Homo sapiens: one gene and its partner. The protein of the gene in region 1 interacts with the protein of each later gene in a pairwise test. Each region holds a gene or a part of one and is shown on either strand. Other genes may lie near its edges.

What was found.
Region 2: the proteins of ATXN1 (region 1) and REL interact in binary tests that used the Homo sapiens proteins (3 or more experiments, as listed by UniProt).

Annotation. Positions count from the first base shown.
Region 1 is NC_000006.12:16,301,037-16,303,460, forward strand, and holds part of ATXN1 (ataxin-1), read right to left. Parts: 3' UTR 1-2,424. UniProt on the Homo sapiens protein: Chromatin-binding factor that repress Notch signaling in the absence of Notch intracellular domain by acting as a CBF1 corepressor. Binds to the HEY promoter and might assist, along with NCOR2, RBPJ-mediated repression. Binds RNA in vitro.
Region 2 is NC_000002.12:60,884,574-60,888,073, reverse strand, and holds part of REL (proto-oncogene c-Rel), read right to left. Parts: intron 1-3,500. UniProt on the Homo sapiens protein: Proto-oncogene that may play a role in differentiation and lymphopoiesis.

The DNA of each region.
Region 1 (2,424 bases):
GACAAATTTCTATATACAAAAAAACATGTAACTTTCAACCCTTCTCTGCTTTTTTTTTTTTACAAACAAAGTATGAAACTCATTGTTTCAACAGAGCCATATCTTTCAAACACTGAATGAATCATTTCGACATTCATTTTTCTTTTGTGCAATTTTTTAAAACATTACCTGTACTCCTCAAAGTGAGTGCTTCAAAATTTTGTTTTCTTCAGCTTCTCAAATCAGGTGTACATTTAAAAAAAAATTCCCACAAGGTATAGTGCTACAAGAAAAGATCCTATCATCAGTAAGGTAACGTATTTGAAGCGAGGTCATCTATGTAAAAGAAATCTCAGCTCCGGAGTAGAGGTGTGCAAGTTGTTTGGAGTTTCCCTATGCCAGAAACACAACACTGTCCGTGGAAAAGAGAGGAAACCAACCCAACACAATAGCAGATGCATGTGCTTTATAAAAAAGTATATTCTCTGTATATTTATTACTTGATGTGTTCTTAAATTCTCTATTTCAGAAATTCTGGGTTAAAAACAAATGTGGAAGCAAAGGCCTCCACGCCACTTAAAAAAAAAAAAAGTGTAATTCTCTCCTTTCACATCACCACCGAAGAAACCGAATTGGGCCATGGAGTCTGCTGGCCCTGTTTTCACCTGGTGCAAATTGAAGTGCAAAGGGTTTCAGAAGGCAACAGACCAGTCTGTTGAGCTGCTTGTGGTTCATGAAACAGTAGCCATGACAACCAACACAGCTCAAGAAGCCCGGCCTTCGGTACCGAGAGCTCTGCTTCCTCACCCATATCTGAAATAGCACGGTATTAGTGTCTTCAAAAGCATTGGAGATTTTTCTCTCTATGAAAGAAATAGGTTTCCTTAGTAGTCACAGATGTTAAAGGGTATTGTCAATCGTTTCCTTAAAAAACAAAACAAAACAAAATCCAGAGCTACAACAACAAAAATAAATTTTGGCAACATATTTCAGTAAAGATCAAACTGTGCAAAGAGTGGATTTTATGATTACTAGGAGCTACTGTTCATCTTGAACATGCAGCATTATATTGCAATCTATGCGGTATCTAAGGAGTAATCCACAAGATGCAGGAAATCCAAACATTCCTTGAAATTGTACAACCCTACTCCAGAGCAGTCAAAGTGCTGCTTCTGGACACGTCAGTGTACCACACACACACCTGCCCCGTCCCTGAGAAAGAGGTGTGAAAGGTTCCGCAGAGTCCCTTTAGGGGAGAAGGAGGGATGCTGCCACTTCCTGGTGGGGGGAAAAAACCCAACACACTCACCTAACAGAAAACATAGAGGCTCACAATTCCAAGTTAGAAATGGGATCAACAACAACAGAAATCAAATCATCCCAAACTAAACTGGGTGAGTTAGGGAAAACGAAAAGTTGACCAACATAGAAAATTATCCTGAAAGTCCAAATGAAAATTCAATTTGGATTTCCACTTTAAAAGATCTGAGGTAAGTGGCATCCATCTCTGTATCCCTCCCTCCCCCCTCTGCCCCAGTGTGGCCCAGACAAACTGAAATAATTCTTAAGTTAAACATTCTAAGGAACAGTCATTTTATATATTTAGAAATCCCTAGAAAGAGAGGTTCTTGTTTGTTGGTTTCTTATTAATAGTATTATTTTTTTCTTTTCGCCCTGACTAATTTCTTGGTGATTGTGTTCCATTGTAAACGCAAAAGGCCTGCTGTTACTAGTTTAAAAATGGAAAACAGGAAAGAAAGAACAAAAGACGGCTGTCGGTAAATATTGCAAAGTGGACATAGTACAGAGGCACATGGCTGATCCTTGTAAGCTGAACGGCACCGAAGAATTTCTACCCCTGTCATCGTTAATGTTTGCTACACAGAAGCGGTGACAGAGGCTGCTCTGGGAGCCTCGGGGCCCGCCAACGTCTGCAAACAGGAGGCTCCTGCCCTCTGTGCGTTCTTCCTATTTGAAGAGAAAGCTGCCACAAGGGAGTGGTGACCGTGGGTGGCAGGTGGTCCCCTCCACAGCCACTGGCCAACACGCTCAGAACGCACACACACAACAGGCCACACTTCCCGTCCAGGCTCAGAGGCAGGGCTCCAAGTCTCAAGGACACAGACCCCGAGGAGGGGCCTGCCCACTTGCAGAAAAGACCGTGGAAAATGGGTTGACTCCAGGCTACATGGCTCCAGAGTGCGTCTTAGAAATGAATCTGCCTCCTTCCTCTCCACACTCCACATTCACTATTCCGTGTGGTGACAGGGGACACTGCGGTTCCTCCCCCGGGTCTCCTTGGCTGGCTCTTTCTGCAACGTGGCGGCAGACGCACGGGGCTCCTGAAGGCTCCCCGCCCCAGCACTCAGCATCCGCAGCAGGGGAAAGGTGGGAGGCTCTCTCCCTCCTGGCTCCTTCCCTCCAGCCCTGCTCTGGCCAGAATGG
Region 2 (3,500 bases), on another chromosome or scaffold:
CACCTGTAATCCCAGCTACTTGGGAGACTGAGGCAAGAGAATTGCTTGAACCCAGGAGGTGGAGGCTGCAGTGAGCCAAGATTGTACCACTGCACTCTAGCCTGGGTGACAGAGTGAGACTCCGTCTCAAAAAAAAAAACAAACAAAACACAAAAACAACAACAAAAAAACCCAAAACTTCATTGGTTACATGACACTTCTTTAGATTGTTTACAAAAAGAACAGAAAAGTAGTTGTTGAAAAGATTAAATATTTTTAAATAGTAAAAATTACATAAATATCAGTTATCATATAATATTGAGTATTTAAAGTCCTTGGAATTTATTTTTCCTACTGCAGAAGCTCTTAATTGGTAAAAATTAACAAGCTGGGGGAATGTAGAGTATTACAACCAAGTAACACAGTATACTGTAATACTCTACATTCCCCCAGCTGGAAATAATCTCCCCTCCTTTAAACTACCATAGTATTCTGTGTATAGCAATTATTCCAAATAACTGTAATTTAGGGAAAACTTACCGTCTTATTTCTTCTTGAGATAAAGCTACTTGTTTTATTTCTTCAAGCTACTTGAAGGCAGAAATTGTGTTTAACTCATCAGTGCCTTGTACAGAGATATTCATTAAACATCTATTGAATGAATGACTAAAAAATCTTAAGGTCTTTTGTTTATACAAGTTATTCAAACGTTAAATAATCATATAAGTGATTAGTCAGATTTTTTAATTAGATTCCACTACTAAGGAAAAAAAAATAGTGCTTTATAGGTACCAGGATTGCTACACCTCAGTATTTCCTCATACTCATTCCTATTTTGATTTATCTGTGTTTATGATTTTTAAAAAACTTCCCAGCTATAAATCATTTATATAATGCATCAGTACAATGCACCAGTTATCTCCTTCCTCAGTACTGTGCTTTGCACAATGCCATTCTTCCTGAATATAAAATGTGTTGAAATGTAGTCATCTATGGAGTGCAAGAGGGTAAAACATAAATCAGGAAATTGTAGGGAAAATAAGTACTCTTAACTAAGATAACCTCAAATCGCCACAGTTTTGAAAAGCACCAAAACGTCTCCAAAATTGACTCTAAACAAATTGATTACTGTATTTTTCTTTAAGCAACACTATGCAAAGCTGGGACTGACCCCTATATTCTGAATAGTATTTTAAAAGGCTAATATACATCAGAATAACTTCTAAAATACAGCCAAAATGTTTGTAAGATATATCTATGTTTTTATTTGCGCTTAGGCAAGAAAGAGTGCTATTTTAAAACATAGTGCCTATCTAATAAAGCATGAGCTTTTAAAATAAAAAAATTACATTGAAATGTTTAAATGGATCATAAATTATCGGAAATAGACACATTATTAACAAACACTTTATTGCTAGAATTAGCAACCAGCATCAAGTATACAGAAAAAAAAGCTAATTATTGTAATTATAACATTATTTTAAGACCCCTTTATATACATTTCTCATTTGATCCTCTTAACTTTAATCTCCATTTGAAAAATAATAGAAATTATTATCCCATCTTACACATGATAAAACTAAAGTTGAAAATTATATGAAGTTATAATAAAAATGAATTATGAATGGTATGCTAATATGGCAGTGCCAAATTTAAAAAACAAGCATAAAAGCAACTGGAGGTAATAACTGATACAGCACATAATCTGCAATCTAAAATAAATGCAACTTAATTTAAGAAGATAATGCATCCTGGTATAGCCAAATGAGTATTTAGATCCAAAGAAATCCCTAGAACAGAGTTCATACTGGGGATGTACATCAGAATCACCTAGGTAGTTTTTTCAAAACATACATGTCCTTACCCCACTTGAGATGTTTAGAAGATAAAGAAATCTTCATAGTTTTTAAAGCCCAGATACACGTTGCTGAAAAAGCCTTCCAAGAAATTCTAACACACTCCTGATTAAGAATAATTGTCTTAAAACATGAAGTGGAAGCAACAATGCACATATTGAGAGAAGTAATCTAAAAATTCAGGTACAAATATGGACTGGGACGTGAGTAAATTAGGCAAAGCAATTCTGGCTACTTGTAACTTGAACTTGTGTTTATCTCCCACTTAAAAAAGAACCTTATTCAAATGCAAGCAAGAAAAAATGACAATATAGAGATAACCTTCAAATGCTTTCATTTATTTAAAAAGTAAATAATTTACAACACAAATATTTTAACTCTTGCAACACATCACACAAATGATTGTCACACCAGTGTGTCAACACCACAGTTGAGAATAGCTGACTAGACTGCATGTCTCTCATAAAGGTCCTCGGTGACAGACTTTGCCTGAGACCTAAAGGAGCCAATGGAGCTAACAATATATATTTTTCCAAATATCACCTCTACTCAATTTGGAGAAAAAGAAAATAAGATCTATTATTTTTTTCCTCAAACTAGGTCTCTCATCAGCCAAAGGCTATGCCAATATATCAGGCTGACTTTATTACTCCAATACATCAGGCTGACTTTCAACTGGGCCTTAAGAATCAAAGAAAGGAAATTTTCAGATGAGTATTCAACTGATTTATGCACTACAAGGTAAAAACTGTAAAAGATTCTGGCAATAGGGATTCTGTTACCAAGGGGGAAAAAAGGTAAGTCTTGAAAAAACTCTTGCACGTGCCAGGGTAAAATAAATAAATTTTAAAAGCTGTCCTAGATTATACAGGTATTAAAGTTAAAAACAAATGGCAAGACCAAATCACCTCTGTTTTAAAAATAAAAACAGAGGAGGCCCAGATAAATATGAATTTCAGAAAAACAATTTTATCCCATGCAATATTTGGGTCATGTGCCTACAAACAAAATCATTTTCAGAGAACCCATATGAGAGAAAGTTGGAACAAAATGAAATTCTGAGTCCCTTAAATTGTATTTGAGAAAGATACTATGCATAACCTAGATGTTCCTAATTATGATTCATTGTCTGGCTCCTCCCTAGTCATTACATTAACTCATTCCCTTTATCTGTGCCTATCATACGTCACCTTAATTATTTAACTCCATTGTTATTTCTATTTTTTCATGTGTTGCATTTCTGAAACATTCATGCTCATGTGTGGCATTTTACTTAAAAAAAGAAGTCATTTACTGTAGCTATCCATTCCTAACTTCCAGCTCTGTTATTAAAGATTAAGTTGCCTCACACTTACTTCCATTTCTCCCCTTTAATCGAGAAAAACAACAATTCTCTTGAAATTCACACTACAAATAGTTGGTAAGAAGTGAGGTTTACAAAAACAATTCATTTCTGTACTTCCTTCCTATTGTGTGACACAGAAGAACCATACTAAGAAAAATGTGAAGAAAAATAAATTATCTAAATTTTAAAACATTTTACCAAAGACAGCACTAATTATTAGTTAACAGAGCTATATGCCACACAAAGACATTTTGCTCTTTTTACTGGAACAATGAGAAGGTTTAAATTCAGACATAAAATATCTAATTTTACTTATATTA